6 linked regions of the Homo sapiens genome follow. The protein of the gene in region 3 purifies or fractionates together with the protein of the main gene of each other region. This does not show direct contact. Each region holds a gene or a part of one and is shown on either strand. Other genes may lie near its edges. The genes, in order: NCBP3, ARIH1, BTF3L4, OXSR1, PLIN3 and PRIM2.

Region 1 (3,500 bases), on a different chromosome or scaffold from region 3:
TCACTACGTTTAAAGGCAAAGAAAAGTTAACACCTCTACGATAAAAGGAGAAAATGAGTAAGGGTCCTTAGAAGCACAGGTTCGAATCTCAGCTCTGCCACTAACTGGTAACTTTTTCTGGGCCTCCTCAGAAAAGACAATCTCTTATTTCCCAGCTCTAACATCTGAGCCAGCTGACAGCATCTGAACTTTAAACAGGTGACCTCAGAAATGGAGACTTCACAGGTCCCTTCTCACAAGAGTGCTTGGATAAGGAGTGGACACGCAAGGCAAGGCCAGAAGCATGAGGTGATGGCAGGGAAAAGGCACTCTCTGGGGAAATGTGGACAAATTTCCCACAAAACACCCTGTACCTTTCTTCATCATGTCTCGGTCCAAGGCTACATTTCTTTGGGCAAGATTTACTTCCGATCGAAAATGGAAGCGCTTGGCTCGCTGCTCTTTCTTTTCAATTGCTTCCTAGAAAGTACAGAAAAAGTGAAAGTAGTAAAATATGGAGAAGGCGAGTTAAATCACACATGCATCATGATGCATCAGTGACAAACCTGAACTAAAAAAGAAGAAATAAGCAACACTACACCTTGAATCAGTCTGGCAGAGACCTGGATATTCACACTCAATGACTGGGGGGATATGTTAATATCGCTGTAATTTGCAACCATCTCCGACATAACACAGCCTATCACTGTGCCTGGGACATAGTAGGAACTCAGTGAGTATCTGCTGACTGAATGAATAGTCCTTTAAAGTTTATAAAGTTATATGACACTTCATTTGTTATTATCAATTATGCCAACAAATTACAACTAAACAATTTCAACATCCCAATTTTCCAGGTGCAGAAATGGAGGCACAAAAAAGCAAAAAGGTTTGCTGGAGATACTTCAGCTATTAAGCAAGCAGATCTGATTCCAGTGCTATTTCTAGGAGCCCACCTACAACCACTTCACATTGTCTGAGCAATGGTAATCACACCTATCACGCTCTTCCACATTATAACTGCCTGAGCAGTCCACTCCCTAAAGCTAGTCTGTTTAAAAATAACACCGAAGCAAAGAAACTCTCCCTCCTCTTCCAGCCTCGTGTCCACGGAATCACCAGTTTTCATCTCTAAGTGATAAGAACCATTGACACTTTACTGAAAAAATAATCAGCTTTGTAAGTTTCTTCTAAGAGCTAAAATAAACCCAGGTCCAACTGTGGGTTTCTGATGGCTCTTAGGAACCCTTCACTAATTGGTTTTGTTTGTTTTTGTTTTTGAGACGGACTCTCACTCTGTCGCCAGGCTGCCACGATCTCAGCTCACAGCAACCTCCGCCTCCCGGGTTCAAGAGATTCTCCTGCCTTAGCCTCCTGAGTAGCTGGGACTGCAGGTGCACACCACCACGCCCAGCTAATTTTTGTATTTTTAGTAGAGACGGGGTTTCACCATGTTGGCCAGGATGGTCTCGATCTCTTGACCTCGTGATCTGCCTGCCTCGGCCTCCCAAAGTGCCAGGATTACAGATGTGAGCCACCGCGCCCAGTCCCCTTCACTAATTGTATATTGACTTTGCCACACTAATTGAAGGTCTGACTACAGAGAGCTTGTGGGGATTGGTAAAGTTGCAACACTTCTGTTCTTTCCCAATAGTTAACGCTCATTTTCTTCACTGAAGTCTTCCTAGTACAAACAACAATTTACCTTCCTTTAGAAACAAAGTACTAACTCTGAGACTATCACCCTTTTCCCATATACCTGTGTCATATAATGGCAAACAGTGTAAGATTATGAATAGTTTACTTTTTCAATTACAGTAAGAAAAGATTTTCACTTTATTCTCTTTTCTTGTCTAAAAGATGACCAATTCTCTCTCTTTTTTTTTTTTTTTTTTTGCGGGGATGGGGGGCCTTTAAGTGATTGGAAACACAAGAGACACAGATAAACCATAAAAAGGTTAGCTGGGCATGATAGCATCCACCTGTAGTCCCAGCTACTCGGGAGGCTGAGGCAGAGGGATCAATTGAATCCAGGAGGCAGAGGTTGCAGTGAGCCGTGATCGCACCCCTGAACTCCAGCCTGGGTGACAGAGTGAGACTCTGTCTCAAAAAAAAAAAAAAAACACTATAAAAAGGAAGGCACGAAATATATTTTTATTTTTGCTTTTATGTATTCAATACAGCAATATATACTATTATTCAGAAATGTAATACAAAATTCTGTTCCAAACTTAACTGTAAACATTAAAATCAGAAAAAATGTCTAAAACGGAACATCACTGATTAAAGCAACTTACATGTATTGACTACATATAAGGAAAATAATAGGCTTGACTCTATGAGGTGTTACAATGAAGGTGGTAATCTGGTAATAGCAATCATCAGATACAAGGCAATAGTCTTATTAAGGGCCTATTATGCCGACACGGTGGCTTACACCTGGAATCCCAGCACTTCGGGAGGCTGAGGCAGGTGGATCACCTGAAGTCAGGAATTCAAGACCAGCCTGACCAATACAATGAAACCCTGTCTCTACTAAAATTACAAAAATTAGCCAGGCGTGGTGGCGGGCGCCTGTAGTCCTACCTACTCAGGAGGCTGAGGCAGAAGAATCGCTGGAACCCAGGAGGTGGAGGCTGCAGTGAGCCGAGATCGCACCACTGCACTCCAGCCTGGGCAACGGAGCGAGACTCCACCTAAATATGGGGGGCCTACCATCTGCCAGGCACTTTTCATGTTTTGTTTCATTTCAAGTGGAAACAGTACACATTTTTTTAGAAATGGACATACCATTTAAAAAAGCATCCCCCGTCTTGGACATTTTCTTGGAAACGGTTCAACACAGGTATCTAAGTAGAGTGATTTTATCCTTTCATGGCTGTAAGAACACACAAATGCTGCCTGTACCGTTTCAGGATGCATGAAGACATCGTTGTATAACACAAAATTTTTTTTTGTTGCCCCCACTGGAGTGCAGTGGCACGATTTCAGCTCAGTGCAGCCTCAACCTCTCAGGCTCCAGCGATCCTCCCACCTCAGCCTCTTGAGTAGTTGGGACTACAGACCTGTGCTACCACACCCGACTAATTTTTGTATCTTTCGTAGAGACGGGTCTCACTATGTTGCCCAGGCTGGTCTCGAACTCCTGGGCTTAAACGATCCACTTGCTTGGCCTCTCAAAATGCTAGGATTACAGGCATGAGCCAGCGTGCCTGGCCAATAACACAATTTTTTTTAGAAAAAAAATTTAAATCCAGCAACAAAATAAAAGAGGAAATATTTACTGTTATGTCCTAGGGATCAAATTCATTAAGTTCACTTGCTTATCAAGCTGAATAAATAAATCATAGCCTGTCTTACCTTGGAGGTGACATCAATTCCAGTGATGAAGCTGCCAGCCTTGTTTTCATATCTTCTGCTCGTGTCCTAACACAAAGGGGAAGGGTGAGAAATTCAGACAGCAATTGAGGAAAAACCTATAATAAAAGTCGGCCTGACATCTGCAGGTTCTTTTTTCCTTT
Region 2 (3,500 bases), on a different chromosome or scaffold from region 3:
CAACGGACAGAAGCAATCTGTGAGAAACATGGCAAAAGCTCAGTTGCTGGATATGCTAAACCCAGTTTCACTATCACTGAACTTTACCAGTAAGGATCATCACTGGCAGAAAGTTTTATTCAACAGCTTAAAAAAAAATTACCTGTACTTGTCTTGTACTTTCTGCTTTATATCCTGCAGAGAATCTTGGGAAATATCTCGTTCAAGGTAGCCCGAGAGCACCTCTGTGGCATTCTCTAGATCTGCTTGGTTATTCTGTAAGAAGAATGAAAGTAAATTTTGGCTTCAAAATAAAGCTAAAAGATAAACCATTTTCACTGTTTTGTTGACTACAGACTGCTCTCAACACTCATTCTGTAACTTTCATAGGTGGTTTAACTGCACCTGTAAAGCTCTATGGGCTTTCATCTCTAATAACTTGTTTGTTCTTTTCCAGAACAATTTTTTAAATGTTAAAAGAACGAAAGATTTCACCCATTACTTTTGGAAGAATACTGAAGACCATTTGAAAGGATTTAAAATGTCTTTTGGAATCTTCTCGTTCTGAGAGCTGCTCTTTGCTGAAAACTCAAAGGTAAATGAGAAAAAATAGAAACCTATTATTGCTTACATCTGGCTATACTTATTTCTTATAAGAAAACACTGTATGGAAGATTCAAATTGTATCATCCTTTACCACTATGGCTAGTTTTGTACCTGTTACCCAACTGAAGTCCCATCTGCTAGTCAGTCTTATTGTCTAGTCATATACAGATATCAATGTTTTATGCATCAATTTTAAATGAACATCTTTACTTGAGAAAACCTTTACTGCTAAAAGCTGGCTTTTTAGTCATTATTTCTCCACTAAAGATAACCACCACATTAACTTCTAATATTGCAGGGTTAGTTTAGCCTGAATAAAGGCTTTTATTGAGAACTTATGATGTTCCAGGTGCCGTATAGCAATTAACACAAATTGTCTCACATAAAACACAAATTGTCTCACTTAAACCTCATAACAACCTAGAAAGGTACTATCCTCACTTTAAAATGGACAAATAAGAGGTTAAGGAATTTGCTCCAAATCAACAGAGCTAAAACATAATGAAGTAAAGATTAAAATCTAGGGCTGACTCCAGAACCTGCATACCTAATCACTAGCTGGCTAAACCACATCGATCTGAATATAATTTAGGACAAGAAATAGAAATTTCTTGTATCTTTGTAATAAATACATTCGTCTACCTACATGTTCTGAACAAACAAGAACCCTGAAAACTCTGTATCTTATATATGAAAGATCAGGTAGACCTATGATACAAGGTGGGCTTTTTCCTCACCCAGAACTACTCCTACCTCAAAGATAATGGACTGGTTATTCTTTTTGAGGTAGAAAGCGAAGACATAAGTGTACATGAGTGTGGCACGACACTGGCAGAGGACATCAACTGCCTTCTTCAGGAACTGCACCTCAATCCAGGACATGTTGTGCTGCTGCATCTCCTCCATTTTCTGTTTCACCTGAGCATATAGTTTGTGCTCAAAGCGCAGGCTCTGCATGTGGTTCATATAGCGATTACAGTAGAACAGGTACCTCTGCAGGGCTGCCCTAGATCGCTGTCCCATTAAGAAAAATTGGGTGATATAATTATAACACATAAACTGTACATAAAAGCTGATTATCAAATTAAAACCATAATGAAGTCTCACTTCACACCTGTTAGAATGGTTTTTATCAAAAAGATGAAAGATAAGTCTTGGCAAAGATAAAGAAAGAAGGAGACTCTTGATACACTGTTGATGGGAATGTAAATTAGTATAGCCATTATGGAAAATGGTATGGGGAGGTTCCTTAAAAAACTGAAAACAAAACCACCACAGAATCCAGCAATCCCACTACTGTGTATATATGAAAAGGAATTGAAATCAGTATGTCAAAGGTATCTCTGTACTCTCACATTCACTACAGCATTATTCACAATAGCCAAGACATGGAATCCATGTAAAGTGTCCATCAATGGATGAACACAGAAAGAAAACGTCATGTATGTACACACACACACGAGTACTCAGCCTCAAAAAAGGAATTCTGTTGTGACAACATGGATGAACCTGGAGGACATTACACTAAGTGAAATAAGCCAGGCACAGAAAAGAAATACTACATGATCTCGCTTATATGTAGAAACTAAAAAAGTTGAACTCACAGACATACAGAGTATAATGACGGTTACCAGAGGCTTGCGGGGATAGAGGGGTAGGAAGGGAGGGAATGGGGAGTTGGTGACCAAAGAGTACAAAGTTTCAGATAGACTGGATGAGTAAGTTTTGAGATTTATTGCACAACAGGGTGAATATAGTCAATAATAATATATATTTCAAAATAAGTATCATTTCAAATGTCTCACCATAAAAATGTTAAGGCAAGGCAATACAACAATTAGTTTGATTTAATCATTGCATTGTTTACATATTTCAAAACATTCCACTGTACTCCATAAATGTGTATAATTATGATTTGTCCATTAAAAATATTAATAATTTAAAAAGCTGATTTACTGATGAAACAGTACTGTGATCTAGGCTAAAATCAGGAATAGACATCTACTGCTACTTTTGTTATTTAATACTCTTGAAAAATGTCCTATTAATTGTACTTTCCAATACAGTAGCCACAAGCCACACCTGACTACTTAAAATTCAATTTAAGAAACTAAAAATTCAGTTCCTCATCGCTCAATAGTCACATGTGCTTAGTGACTACCAAATTAGACACTGGTGATAAAGAACATTTACATCATTACAAAAATGTTCTACTGGATGGCACTGTTCTACAGTATGCCACAAGATGTAAAACAAGCAAAAAGCAGAGATATTTTTAAGTAGAAAACTACAGTGGCAACTACATACCATGTAACTCCTGATATAATACAATAGAAAGTATAATCAATTAAGTATTCTGGGCTCCCCCCCCAACCACTGAATCTGAATTTGATCAAGTTTCTTGAATTAATCACCAGTGCAGAAAATGCAGGGATAGAAGAACCTATTAAATGACACCATGCAGTTGCAACCAGCAAAATCCATAATGTGGGAAACTCTACAGGACAACACGATCTAGTTTCTTCAACAAAGAAAAAAAAGCAAGGAGGGGGGAAGAGAAGGAACAACAGGTAGAGGAGACTCAAGAGATATCAATTAAATCCAATTTGTGGACCTATGTGGATCCCAATTTGAACCAACTATAAAAGAAAATTTAAGATAGGCTGGGTGTGGTGGCTCATGCCTGTAATCCTAGCACTTTGGGAGGCTGAGGCGGGTGGATTGCCTGAGCTCAGGAGTTTGAGCCAGCCTGGGCAACACAGTGAAACCCTGTATCTACTAAAATACAAAAAATTAGCTGGGCGTGGTGGCATGTGCCTGTAATCCCATCTACTTGGGAGGCTGAGGCAGGAGAATTGCCGAGTTGCACCACTGCACTCCAGCCTTGGGGAGAGAACGAGACTCTACCTCTGAAA
Region 3 (3,500 bases):
AAGTGTATGAAAAATATGATAGTTAACCAAGCAAATTAAAATCAAACCACTAATGGTAAAAATCTCTTCAGATTTGAAATCCAAGATACTCACTTTCCATTAATTCTGTGTCTTACGGGGGGAAAAGAAAAGTAACAAATGTAAAGATTTTTTTTATTTCTACTGGGGAGGGAGGAGGATAAATAGAACTGTTTTCCAATTTGCTCTCCACTGTATACACACATACCCACACACATACATAAACATACATACACCAAAAATACCCCAAACAAAAAACAAAAAAACCAGGAATCAAAAACCAAAACACCCTCAAACTGCACCAATACTTCATATTTTGACCAAAAAAATATCCTGGGAGGAAGTGCAAAATGCAAAATCAAATGACCGAAAAATGCTGAACAAACAGCATTATTAATATACAAAATATTTATATTACTGAACTAGTAACAGGTGATGTTCTCCATGTCTGTAAAACTTTGGAACCACATAGCTGATTTGTTAAATCTAGTCCATGCCAGCTTCCAAAAACCAAACTTTTAGTTAGCTTCATTCTTTGATGCCTCATCAAAATTTTCTACAAGATCTGAAAAAGAAAAACAAAGTATATGAATCAAAGAATACAAAAAAGGAAAAAGAGGTAAATGGAACTCCTAACTTCTAACCCCCGAAAAAATAAAATTAGTACAACCAGAATTAGCCTGAAAACATAAGGAGGCAGAAATGAACTGGTGGCATTTTACTAACAATGATTTAATTATTTGCTTAGGACAGTAATCCTAAGGAAATGTTCATCTTTTGTCTATGCAAATTACTGAGGTGAATAGCATTTTCATATGTCAATTATAATTCATACAGAAATGTTATAACAATAGCTATGCAAATTTATAATCACAGTGATTTCAATTTAATAAATCCAGGCAGCAGAGCTTTGTGTGACAATTTCTGATTCTAGGTTCTAAGGTGGGTGCTTACGTTGTTTTTCATTAGATCCTATCCACATTATTGTGAATCAATTTAAATTCATGAGCTTACAATCAACACAAACCTAAAAGTTATCTATGCAATGACTGAAAGGAGATAAACAGGATGCTTAAAATCTTAAGTCTAAGGAAATGTCACTTACCTGGAACATCATCATCTTCCTCATCAATGTCTTCTGGTTTTGGTGCTTTACTGTCCAAGACTACAAAAAGTTTATTTTAATATTAGTCATTGAGAACAAAGACCTTAAAGAAAACTTATAATGTTTATCCCTTTTTTCCTGTATAAATCACACAGAGTTGCTCAGAAATAGCTAAATATTGTCAATCTAAAATGCCATTCATATTTTTTGCTTGAGTAACATTAAAAATAAAACTTTAATCAGTTAATACACTGATAACACAGCTGGCAATTTCCATGTGTGACAAAGATGAAATTTATTTTATTTATTTTTATTTATTCATTTTTTGAGACAGGGTCTCACTCTGTTGACCAGGCTGGAGTGTAGTGATGCGATCTTGGCTCACTACAGTCTCCACCTCCCAAGTTCAAGCAATTCTCCCTGCCTCCCAAGTAGCTGAGATTACAGGCAAACACCACCATACCCAGCTAATTTTTGTATTTTTAGTAGAGATGGGGTTTCACCATGTTGGCCAGGCTGGTCTCGAACTCCTGACCTCAAGGGATCCACCTGCCTTGGCCTCCCAAAGTGCTGGGATTACCGACATAAGCCACCACACACGGCCTACAAAGATAAAATTTATATGCAAAGTGGAATAACTGATCACTGAGTAAAAAGACTTTACAGTGGCCATATTCTCCAAATAAAAAATTAATATTAAGGTTTTTTTCAGCCAGGTATGGTGGTTCACACCTGTAATCCACTGCACTCCATCCTGGGCGACAGAGTCAGACTCTGTCTCAAAAAAAAAACAAAACAAAAAAACAAACAAACAAAAAAAACCAAGCAACAACAACAACAACAACAACAACAAAGCTGGGCACAGTGGCTCATGCTTGTAATCCCAGCACTTTGGGAGGCTGAGGCAGGTGGATCACGAGGTCAGGAGTTTAAGACCAGCCGGGCCAAGACGGTGAAACCCTGTCTCTACTAAAAATATAAAAATTAGCCAGGCGCAGTGGCGGGCGCCTGTAATCCCAGCTAACTTGGGAGGCTGAGGCAGATAATTGCTTGTACCCGGCAGGTGGAGGTTGCAGTGAGCCAAGATCATGCCACTGCACTCCAGCCTGGGCAACAGAGCAAGACTCTGTCTCAAAAAAAAAAAAAAAAAAAAAAAAAGATTTTTTTCATTTCTTTTGGTGTAAGAAAGTATCTAGCTAGGTAGTATGGGCACTACAATACTAGATTTTTTCATTTTTAGGGGCAACATGACACATTTGAAACCAGGACTATCTTGGAAATTCAGAACTTACGGTTGCCACATTTATAGGGCAATCAATATTTAACAAAAACATAGATGTCTGACAACATTATTTTCTTTTTTCTTTTTTTTTTTTTAGAGACAGGGTCTCCCCCCTCTGTCACCCAGGTTGAAGTACAGTGGCTTTCCATAGCTCACTGCAGACTTGAAGTCCTGGGCTCAAGTGATCCTCCTGCATCAGCCTCCTGAGTAGCTATGACTACAGGCACGTGCTATCACACCTGGCTAATTTTTGTATTTTTTGTACAGATAGGGTCTCACCATGTTGCCCAGGCTGGTCTTGAGCTCCTGGCCTCAAGAAATACTCCCTCCTCAGCATCACAAAGTGCTGGTATTACAGGAGTGAGCCACTGCGCCCAGCCATATAACAGTATTTTCTGATTGTCATTAATTAGCAGTGAATATCAAATTAACTATTTAAAATGATGGGCCAAGCATGGTAGCTCACGCCTGTAATCCTAGCACATTGGGAGGCGGTAGGTAGGTGGATCACTTGAGGCCAGGAGCTCAAGACCAGCCTGGCCACCATGGCGAAACCCTGTGTATACTAAAAATACAAAAATTAACTGGGTGCAGTGGTGCACACCACCTGTAGTCCCTGCTACTCGGGAGGCTGAGGCATGAAAATTGCTTGAATCCACAAGGTGGAGGTTGTTGTGACCTGAGATCGCACCACTGCACTTCAGCCTGGGAGACAGAGCAAGACTTTATGTCTCAAAAATAAATAAAATGAAATAAAATAAAATAAAATTATGGCCTGAAGATCTGGGCACTACCCTTTTAGGTAATTACTTCTCAACTTACTATTATTACTACCAAAATGTTTCCGAATATTCTTTTTTTTTTTTTTTGAGACGGAGTTTCCCTCTTGTTGCCCAGGCTAGAGTGCAATGGCATGATCTCAGCTCACTGCAACCTCTGCCTCCCGGGTTCAAGCAATTCTCCTGCCTCAGCCTCCCGAGTAGCTGGGATTATAGGCGCCTGCTACCATGCCTGGCTAATTTTTGTATTTTTAGTACAGACGAGGTTTCACCATGTCGGTCAGGCTGGTCTCGAACTCCTGACCTCAGGCAATCT
Region 4 (3,500 bases), on a different chromosome or scaffold from region 3:
CTGTACCATCAAAGTTTGTGTAAGTACACTCCACGATGTTCAAACAATGACAAAACTGCCTAATACACATATTACAGAATGTATCCTCATCATTTTAAGTGACACATGACTGCATTTTCTCTGAGCATTTCACTAAACGCTGGCCTCAACTGTTGTGTTATTGGGGAAGTAGCTGTCAAGTCTACCTGCTAATCCTCAGTAGGTAATCTGTTCCCCGAGGTTGCCTGTAGGAGTTTGTCTTTGCTTCGTGTCCAGTAGTTTCACAGCAACTTGTACAAGTGGAAGAAGGGGGACACTGCTTGGAATTCTGGGGGGATGGTTCTTTACTCTGAGAATATAGGTCTTTCATCAACTCTCGAAAATTCTCAGCCATTATTTCTTTGAATATCGCTTCTCCTATACTCTCTCTAGTCTTTCCTGGTAAGTTCATGTATATGTATACGTACATTTGTGTGTGTGTGTGTGTGTGTGTGTGTGTGTGTGTGTGTGTGGATGTGCATACACACAAACATACTGAACCTTCTCAGTCTACCCTCCAAATGTTAATATTTCTTTCATATTCCCTCTTTGATCTTTCTGTGCCACATTCTGAGCAATTTCCTCAGTATAGTGTAGTCTGATTAAAACAGGTTAACTCTAGTCCAATTGCATGGGTCAGAATTCTGATTCCACCATTTATTAGCTGTGTGACTTTGGAGAAGGTTACTTAACCTCTCTGTGATTCAGTTTCTTCATTTGTAAAATAAAGAAAATAACAGTGCTATCCTCAAAGGATTACTGTGAGAATTAAACAATATATGTTAAGTGTTTACCACAGTGCCTGGTACTTGATGAGTAAATAATCTCTTTTTTGTTTTATTGGTTGTTCTGTTTAACCAGTCCATTGTGCGTGTTATTTTAACTTAGCAATGTTCTAAACAAAGTTTAATTTTGGTTTACAAACTGGAATAGATTTTCTATAGCTTCCAGTTTTCTTAAAGTTTTATAATAATTTTAGACTTACAGAAGAGCTGCAAAGCTAGTACAGAGTTCCTACATGCCATTCACCACCTTCTGCTATTGTGAACCTTTTACATAACCACAGTATAATAATAAAGAAATCAACTAAAATATCAACACTGGTACAATACTATTAACTAAACTACAGACTTCATTCCATTTCTCCAGTTTTTCCACTAATGTCCTTTTTCTGTCCCAGGATCTAGTATAGGATACTCTTGCTTTCCGTCTTCACGTCTTCTTAATTTCCTCCAATCTGTGACAGTTTCTTAGTCTCTCTTCCTTGACAGTTTTGAAGAGTGCTGGTCAGGTATCTTGCTGCATATTCCTCGATTTGGGTTTGTCTGATGTTTTCTCATTATAGACCGAAGTTACGGATTTGGAGGAAGAATACCTCACAGGTTATATATATGCCCTTCTCATTGCACCATATCAAGAGGCACATATCAGTCTTATCAATGTATTATTAATAGTGATGTTAACCTTGGTCATTGGGTAGAGGAGGTGCATTGTAAAGTTGCTATTTTTCCTTTTTCATACTCTACTCATCAGAAGTGAGTCAACAAGTCCAGCTCACACTCATGGAAAGTTTTAAACATTAATCACTGTATTTTTCATTTCTGGCATTGCTATTTGGTTCTTCTGTCATAGTCACAGTCTTCTCTTGTGGGTCTGATTTCTTCTAATTTTAATTATTTTCAATATACTTAATTTTGTATCTTTTCAGATTTTCACTGCATTACCTAAATCTTCTGGAGCACTAATCCTTCTGCTTGTGTCTGCTAACTAGTTCATAATGCATTGTTTCACTGTGTGTTTCTTAATTTTGGATTGTGACCTTATTACAGTGGGGCATTATGTTCAGGAATCCAATGGGAGCTAGAGTTTGAAAGTGTTCTTCCAGTGCAGCTCTGTGACTACTTCCGTCAAAAATAAAAACTGATTTGGTAAAGCTTTTTTAACTTTCTAATCCTGTGGGTTCCTGGATAACATAGGGAGTATAGACTCTAAACCTGTGGAATGTCCAGGTTGAAGGGCTTGATTATTCAGGAGAGGTTTTTGTTGTCTCTTGGTGATGACAATTTTTATTCTTGTCTATCCTTTTACTAAGGATACTGACATCTGAAGTTCTTAGCTTTAAGAAGAATCTCAGTTCAAACTCCCCACTGGGTGGACCCAAGATCTCACTTCCAGTTTTCACATGGGAGTTATAAATCCAAATCAGTAGGTTACCAGAATGAATAGTGACCCACTGAAAACAGCCATGGGATTAGTTCACAATATTTCTTCTTTAACTTAGGGCTTCCTCATTATTTCTGGCATCTGAGAATCTTTAAGTTGGATAGATTTTATCTGGCATTTCTAGGTATTTGTAACAGGATAATTTTGTTCCTTTAACCAACTAATTTGATAAAAGAAAAGTGTTTCCTGTCTTTTTTAACTGTTTACTCAGAAACAGAAAAAAAAAAATTATAAAAACACAGGTATAAATTTTGCTACCTGTTTTTCTTACCCTTTCCAATATTTCCAACAATAAATTCTGAAACCCTATTACATACACTAGAGATGTGATCAAGAACATCAAAGTCTTTCCCTTTTAATGATCTTTAGAGAAACAAAAATTAAAGAACTCAGTGCTAAGAAGCTGAGTGGAATATATATGTGAAACAGACAGATAAGATTCAGAAGGAACAGAGCCCTAAGTTAGGAATCAGGACTTTGAGATTCAAGTCCTACTCCTATGACTAAGTATCAAGTGACCTCAAAAATAAAAGGTTGTACTCAATGATCCCCAACATTCTACGATTCTGCTTAATTCATGAAGTTACACATATCGGATGTTCTTATTTATTTGCTCACTTGTCATTCAATCTGTCTAACATTGATAAGGAAGCTATTTGAATTTTTGGTCCACTTACTAAAATATCTTTCTAACATGGAAATAAGTATGATTATTACACTAAATATAAATTTTCTATGTGTCTTTCCTTTATTAATACTGTAAATGGCATTAAGACATTCATTTATAAATTTTAAATGCAAATTAAAAACAAATCTCTCCACTAACTTGGCATTTATTAATACAGAATTCACAATGTACAACTTTGTAAGAAATTAACAAGGAAAAAGCTGAACTATTTAGGGTACACTGTATACTACAAAGAAGGCAGAAATCAATTCATTTCCAATCCAGTATAATGGTCTCTGTATACTTTTTTAAAGTTTATATTTAGTTCTTTTGAAAATAATTTCCTGTACATATGAGTATGTGATTCTTAGACTTCTCACAATGTTTTATTAGAGAGAAAAGTAGACTTTTTCTCATATTTTACCTTTTTTCTGGATCTTTTTGAAGGCACAATGAAATCATTTTTCTAAATGATTTTCCATATTTTTTCAGCATTTCTTTATCTTGAACACCAGTTTCCAAAGAAGGAGGATCGTTCTGCAGTGTCAGCATTAAAACCTGCAAGAATTTTCAATATACTATAAACTTGTGA
Region 5 (3,500 bases), on a different chromosome or scaffold from region 3:
TGGCAATGCTGACCTGGGGTTAACACCTGAAGGCCCAGAACAGCACATGGCTTGTAGCAAATGTTGGCTCTTAACATTAAAAAAAAAAATTTTTTTTTTGAGACAGGTTCTCACTCTGTCACCCAGGGTGGGGTGCAGTAGTGTGATCATGGCTCAACTGCAGCCTTGAACTCCTGGGCTCAAGTGATCCTCCCATCTCAGCTTCCCAAGTAGCTGGGACCACAGGCATGCACCACCATGCCTGGCTATTTTTAATTTTTTGTAGAGACGAGTTTTCACCATGTTGCCCAGGCTGTTCTCAGACTCCTGGGCTCAACAGATCCTCCTGCCTCAGCCTCCTGAGTAGCTGGGACTAGGTGCATCCACCACGCCTGGCTAATTTTTGTACTTTTTGTCAAGACGGAGTCTCGCCATATTGCCCAGGCCGGTCTCCAACTCTTGGGCTCAAGCAATCCTCCTGCCTCAGCCCCACAAAGTGCTAGAATTATAGGAGTGTGCCACTGTGCCCTACCTCAGTTTCCCTTAATCACCGCTTTTTAAAGACCCTGTCTCTAAATACAGCCACATTCTTACCCCTGGGGATCAGGACTTCAACATAAGAATTTGGGGTTGAGGGGGCCATAATTCAACCTATAACAGCCTGGGATGAAAAAATGAGGCACAGACCAGGCGTGGTGGCTCACGCCTTACTCCCAGCACTTTGGGAGGCCGAAGCGTGCAGATCACTTGAGATCAGGAGTACGAGACCAGCCTGGCCAACATGGTGAAACCCTGTGTCTACTAAAAATTCAAAAATCAGCCAGGCGTGATGGTGAGTTCCTATAATCTCAGCTACTCGGGAGGCTGAGGCACGAGTATCACTTGAACCTGGGAGGCAAGAGGTTGCAGTGAGCCGAGATCGTGCCACCACGCTCCAGCCTGGGCAACAGAGCAAGGCTCTGTCTCAAAAAAAAAAAAAAAAACACCCTCCTTCAGATAAGTGTGAGGCTTAATCGGTTATTGTTTGTCTCCCCAGCTGGGACCAGGGCACAGGCTGCCTGCTTTGTGGCTGTGTCCAGTGCCCAGCAGGCAGCCTGGCACAGGGTAGATGCTTATTTTTTTAGTTTTTTGAGACAGAGTGTTGCTCTTGTTGCCCAGGCTGGAGTGCAATGGTGCGATCTCGGCTCACTGCAACCTCCGCCTCTCGGGCTCAAGCGATTCTCCTGCCTCAGCCTCCCGAGTAGCTGGGATTACAGGCATGCACCACCATGCCTGGGTAATTTTATCTTTTTAGTAGAGATGGGGTTTCTCCATGTTGGTCAGGCTGGTCTCGAACTCCCAACCTCAGGTGATCTGCCTGCCTCGGCCTCCCAAAGTGCTGGGATTACAGGTGTGAGCCACCGCGCCCTGCAGATAGATGCTTATTAAGTATTCAGGTGCTCCATGTCCGCTTCAGCCCAGTGGTTACAGAAGGGCCACCCTCGGGTACCACCTGCTTGTGTCTGGGTCTGTAGCATCAGAAATAGGTGATCCCTGGGTTGGAGGCAGGACAAGCCAGCCGCATCCCAGCATCCTTGGACTTTCCCTGAGACCACCTGCAGGGACAGGCAGCTTATTCATCCACTTGCTATTGAGTGCCTACTGTATGCCGGGGAGCTGTGCTGTCCCATCATGGTTAGACTTCCTCACCTCCCATTTATGCAGAAATGGCCTTAGCTGGGAAACAGCAGAGCGGTTGTCAACTTGCATTTTTTTTTTTTTTTTGAGACAAGGTCTTGCTCTGTAGCCCAAGCTAGAGTGCAGTGGCGTGATCTTGGCTCACTACAGCCTTGACCTCCTAGACTTAGGCAATCCTCCCAGCTCTCAGCCTCCTGAGAAGCTGGGACTACAGGTGTGCACCACCACACCTGACTAATTTTTTAATTTTTTGTAGGAATGGGGTCTTGCTATATTGCCCAGGCTGGTCTCAAACTCCCAGGCTAGCCAGGCACGGTGGCTCACGCCTGTAATCCCAGCACTTTGGGAGGCCGAGGCGGGCGGATCACGAGATCAGAACAACAGAGCGAGACTCCATCTCAGAAACAAAACAAAAAACAAACTCCTGGGCTCAAGCAATCCTCCTGCCTGCCTTGGCTTCCCAAAGTGCTGGGATTATAGTTGTGAGCCACTATGCCCAGCCATGCCTACACCTTATCAGCAAAGGCCAATAGTGGGCTTGGCTGAGGGGGGATGGAAACTGCTGAGCTTACAGGAAGATGGGAAACGTCAACCAGGAGCCCCCGTCTCAGGGCCAAGCCCTTGCTTCCCTTTCTCTCCCACTGATAGCGTAGGAGGCCAACAGTCTTTCTGTTTATAGAAGGGATAAGCTCAGGGTGAATTCTTCAAGGTCACTGAACAGAGCAGCAGCTGGGAGCTTTTTTTTTTTTTTTTTTTTTTTTTCAGATGGAGTCTCGTTCTGTTGCCCAGGCTGGAATGCAGTGGCGTGATCTCAGCCCACTGCAACCTCTGCCTCCTGGGTTCAAGTGATCCTCCTGCCTCAGCCTCCCAAGTAGCTGGGATTATAGGCGCCCATCACTACGCCCAGCAAATTTTTGTATTTTTAGTAGAGATGGGGTTTCACCATGTTGGCCAGGCTGGTCTCGAACTCCTGACCTCAGGTGATCCAGCTGCCTTGGCCTCCCAAAGTGCTGGGATTATAGGCGTGAGTCACCGTGCCCGGCCAATTTTTGTATTTTTTGTAGAGGTGAGGTCTTACTATGTTGCCCAGGCTGTTCTCACACTTCTGGGCCCAAGCGATCCTCCCACCTCAGCCTCCCAAAGTGCCGGGATGACAGGTGTGAGCCACCGTGCCTGGCCTGCTGTGAGCTCTTGACTTTTTGAGAGGTGCAATGCTCTCTCAATTCTGGGCCCTATGAGTTTTTTCCCCCTTTGTGAAGAGGTAACTTTCCCCAGGTTCTGGGGGACGGTGGTGTTGTCAGAGCTAGATTTTAATCCGGGCCAGTGTGAGAACGTGCGTGTTCACTGAGTAGTGGGGCTGTTAGAACCTGACTCTCATCGGGGGCGTTGGCTCATGCTGGCTCACACAGTGAAACCCCGTCTCTACTAAAAATACAAAAAATTAGCCGGCCGTGGCAGTGCACGCCTGTAGTCCCAGCTGCTGGGGAGGCTGAGGCAGGAGAACCGCTTGAACCTGGGAGGTGGAGGTTGCGGTGAGCCGAGATAGTGCCACTGCACTCCAGCCTGGGTGACAAGAGCAAAAACTCTGTAAAAAAAAACAAAAACAAAAACAAAAAACTTGACTCTCACACCCTCTTCCCCCACAAAAAGATGAACTCTCATGAGTACAAGAGGACTGAGTCTTCAGGGAAGCACCAACTTGGGTAGGAATGGGGCAGGTGTGGTTTTCAACTTTGCGGAGAGCCCTCTGCATAGAGATCTGTCTAAAGACTTAGCTTCAGCTGGACACAGTGGCTCATGTCGGTCATCCCAGCACTTTGGGAGGCCAAAGCAGGAGGACTGCT
Region 6 (3,500 bases), on a different chromosome or scaffold from region 3:
GAGGGGGGAAAAAAAGACTACTTCATCCCACATGCCTTTTTTTTTTTTTTTTTTTAGCAAGAAAAACTTTTTTCAGGAGCCCCCAAAGAACTCATACTTTTTAGCCACAATGACATTGTCACAGGCATAAATTAAAAATTTGGTAAGAAGGAAATGACTATGATCAGATTAATAGTAGCATTAACATGCCAGAAGTTTTCTGAAATGCACGGTGATATTTTTGGTTGTCATGGAGACTGGGGTCCACCACCAGCATTTAATAGATGACAGCTAAAACTATCCAATATGCTGGAAAATATTTGTCTATTTCACACAAAGAAGTGTGGTCTAAAATGTCAACAGAGAGAATATGGGTGAATAAAACTAAGAATAATAAAAGAGCAATGGCCAAACAGTAGACAAGTATCAGTGTCTTCCACAGTGGTGAAAGACACTATTCTTAGCTGTAACTAGAATATAATCTAGGGTAGTGACAGACAAGTAAAGAAAAAATTTAAAAGCATCAACTTTCATGAGGATAAAGAAATAACAGGATTAGGAATGGAGAAAGAATATTAACAGTTACTAAATACCTGTTATGCTAGGTGTTCTCATAAATTCCTTCATTTAATAAACACAGAGTTAGTATTTTAGTCTTCCCAAGTGCTGACATAGCTAAATTATACATATTTAGGTAACCCCAGAGAGTCAATAAAAATTTATTTATATCAGAAAATACTACAATTTTTAACTGAGAAGGAAAGCTTGGCATATGCTTACACTATAATCAGTACAGTTTAAAACAGCCATGTCACAAACCTTTGAAGTCTTCTTCTGCATTAGGTACAAAAAAAGTATTAAAAACTGACTCAGATTAAGAGACAACAACTGTAAAATATGTGTTTTACATATAAAAATGTGTATAGTTTTAAGATATCACCACTTAAGAGTCACACTTCCAACAAACTACTTAAAAATCACTGATCATGTCATTTGTTCAACACAGCTACCTCCAAATTCACCCAGTATGGAGCTACTCATTGCAGCACTAGCATATCACAGTGTTAGTACTTAAGATTTTCTTCTATATTGTCTTCTACTGATACCAAATACTAATTCAGAACAGAAATCTAGGAGTTATATCTACCACAGGCCACACTAATTGTTAAGAGCCATATACGAAGTCTATTTCTAAGGAAAAAAGACATGACCATGAAGAAACCCACAGAGGTTACTCACAAAATTAATCACTCAGCATTGGTATTAGTAGGATCAAGAAAAAAAACTTAAAAACCAACTATGGATAGTAACAAATAAAAACCTAGGAATTTTGGGATTAACAGTACAACATCATATGTAATCTGAATATCATTATGAAAACTGAATTAACTTATTTCCTAGAGAAACACAGAATAAAACTACCAGGGGTATATAACTGAAAGTGTGAACATGTCAGATACAGAAATCAAGTAAAATACTCACTGCCAAAGCCTTGGACAGTTTGGCTCTAAATTCATTCAGGATGATTGCCACAATGTCCTTAAGTGGTACGTAAGCAAAGCCATCTTCCAAATAGACTTTCCTTCCTCGAAACAAATCCAGAGCATCAGCAAAAGGGATCTGAATTAAGAGTAAAACAGGCAAAATAAGTCAGCACCTGTCATTAAGAAATCCTAAGTCTTCATATGTATAAAGTATAAACAAAGAAATTCATTAGTCCTAGCAGAGCCAAAAGAATATCAAAATGATTAATTTATCCTCCTTAAAACTCAACAGCATTAGCAAACAGTGGCAGTACAAAAATATGTTCGTTTCAGAGTTGATGTTTTGAAAAATAGTAACACTAAAAGGCCAAGTTGGAATGCTTACTTTTATTCCTTAACCTCTGAATTTACAAAACATAATCCCCAGGATTTCAAACTCTTAACTCAAGACTTCTACACATGTTGCATTCACCTCACATATCCCACTTTGTATTCTGCATCAGAGAGAATCCTAATTTGTAAACAACATATTCAGAGCTGAAAATTACTTGTAAGTAAATTCCAATTTCTTCATGTATGTTTCCATTCTCACTCCAGAGAAATATACTGAAAAAGCTAATCTCAGTACTAAGAAATGGAAATAATAAGCATTCAGTTTTGCTATTAAAAGAAGTATTTGCCCCAAGAATTTATTTTTAAAAATCTTAGATTTTTAAACCCTATGAACAATCTTAAAATTCTAAGAGATGAGCGAAGTATGATATTAGTAAACTGTAAAAATCATTCTTACTCTCCAATAGAATTTTTCTTTTTTAAAAAACGAGGTTAAAAAATTAGGTGAAAAATGATTCCCAAATTGCCTATTCATTCAAGTTTTAAGGAAGAATTAAATATAAATGCATACAATTTTCTGTATATCCAACGACATCTCACACTATAAACAGATCATGTGCTTTTTAACAACTTTCAATTAATTTACCTATTTCTACAACTGCAACACAGTCCCTGCCCTCATGGGCACACACGGAAAGTCAAACAGACCTACAGGGTAAATTGTGTGATACTGCACCAAATAGGTAGCTTACATAGGACATATCAGATGAGCAGGTAAGAGGGTTTACTGCAATAATATAGGGAAGAAACATGAGTTCTAGTCCAAGCTCTGATACTGACTAGACTTATTTGGTGAATTTAATGAATGCCTCTAAATCTCAGCAGCCAGATCTGTAAAGCTGAGAGAGGGGAGGAAGACACAGGCTAACTGACCCTTAGGGATTCTTTAGCCATAGTATTTCATGATTCTAGCTTATTAAGGTGGTCACAGTGGAAACAAAAATGCCCAAGTAGAAGCAAAAGATGATGTGAAGGCAGAGTAACTGGAAATGTGTGGTGTAAGAGAAATAAATATTGATCACCACACTCTAGGCTTGAAAGGCTGACTGAATGATGGCCCAACAGTCGAAACGAAGAAGCTGGAATGGGGCAGGACTTTAAACTACTGGCACTCACTCATAATAATTAGCACATTCTTTTCAAAGGAAATTGTGGGGTTGCAGTTATCAAATTGTAAAATGAATTTAAACTCTTCCCTCTTCCCCTTCTGGAAGGGTTCATGTGACGTAGTTATCTGAACTGAGTGGGGAGGGGAAACTGAGGTGGCCAAGCACAGGATGATGGAATCTGAGTAGGTTAAGGAGGGCATTCCCATAGGAAAAAACGTAGGCTTACAATGTCAGAGCCCAGTGGAATCACAGAGAGACCATGAGGCAAGACACCACGATGTCAGAGGTCAAGAGAAGCGAAAGGGGGCTTCCACGCAAGGCAGCAATCCAAACAGAGTGTTGGGCCAAATGGGTGATGAGGGTTTCCTGGCAGGGGATAGCCCAGTGCAGGGTGTAAGAACCCAAACAATGCAAGGAGGGTATTCCATTAGGAAAACAGCCTGTAATGGGAGGTCAGAGCCCAAGCAGGGTTGGGAATGCGTCCGTGGAAGGAGACAGCCCAGGAGAGAACATTGGCACACCATTAGTGCAATGA

Evidence for each region.
Region 1: the proteins of BTF3L4 (region 3) and NCBP3 purify together in Homo sapiens (pull-down; one large-scale study listed by IntAct). This does not show direct contact.
Region 2: the proteins of BTF3L4 (region 3) and ARIH1 fractionate together in Homo sapiens (co-fractionation; one large-scale study listed by BioGRID). This does not show direct contact.
Region 4: the proteins of BTF3L4 (region 3) and OXSR1 fractionate together in Homo sapiens (co-fractionation; one large-scale study listed by BioGRID). This does not show direct contact.
Region 5: the proteins of BTF3L4 (region 3) and PLIN3 fractionate together in Homo sapiens (co-fractionation; one large-scale study listed by BioGRID). This does not show direct contact.
Region 6: the proteins of BTF3L4 (region 3) and PRIM2 purify together in Homo sapiens (co-immunoprecipitation; 2 studies listed by BioGRID and IntAct, with this or other methods). This does not show direct contact.

The regions. Positions count from the first base shown.
Region 1 is NC_000017.11:3,839,747-3,843,246, forward strand, and holds part of NCBP3 (nuclear cap-binding protein subunit 3), read right to left. Parts: intron 3,406-3,500; coding exon 3,340-3,405; intron 460-3,339; coding exon 354-459; intron 1-353. UniProt on the Homo sapiens protein: Associates with NCBP1/CBP80 to form an alternative cap-binding complex (CBC) which plays a key role in mRNA export. NCBP3 serves as adapter protein linking the capped RNAs (m7GpppG-capped RNA) to NCBP1/CBP80.
Region 2 is NC_000015.10:72,578,830-72,582,329, reverse strand, and holds part of ARIH1 (E3 ubiquitin-protein ligase ARIH1), read right to left. Parts: intron 1,600-3,500; coding exon 1,339-1,599; intron 256-1,338; coding exon 143-255; intron 1-142. UniProt on the Homo sapiens protein: E3 ubiquitin-protein ligase, which catalyzes ubiquitination of target proteins together with ubiquitin-conjugating enzyme E2 UBE2L3.
Region 3 is NC_000001.11:52,083,795-52,087,294, reverse strand, and holds part of BTF3L4 (transcription factor BTF3 homolog 4), read right to left. Parts: intron 1,184-3,500; coding exon 1,124-1,183; intron 584-1,123; coding exon 537-583; 3' UTR 1-536.
Region 4 is NC_000003.12:38,224,537-38,228,036, reverse strand, and holds part of OXSR1 (serine/threonine-protein kinase OSR1), read right to left. Parts: intron 3,467-3,500; coding exon 3,333-3,466; intron 1-3,332. UniProt on the Homo sapiens protein: Effector serine/threonine-protein kinase component of the WNK-SPAK/OSR1 kinase cascade, which is involved in various processes, such as ion transport, response to hypertonic stress and blood pressure.
Region 5 is NC_000019.10:4,854,168-4,857,667, reverse strand, and holds part of PLIN3 (perilipin-3), read left to right. Parts: intron 1-3,500. UniProt on the Homo sapiens protein: Structural component of lipid droplets, which is required for the formation and maintenance of lipid storage droplets. Required for the transport of mannose 6-phosphate receptors (MPR) from endosomes to the trans-Golgi network.
Region 6 is NC_000006.12:57,380,130-57,383,629, reverse strand, and holds part of PRIM2 (DNA primase large subunit), read right to left. Parts: intron 1,600-3,500; coding exon 1,462-1,599; intron 1-1,461. UniProt on the Homo sapiens protein: Regulatory subunit of the DNA primase complex and component of the DNA polymerase alpha complex (also known as the alpha DNA polymerase-primase complex) which play an essential role in the initiation of DNA synthesis.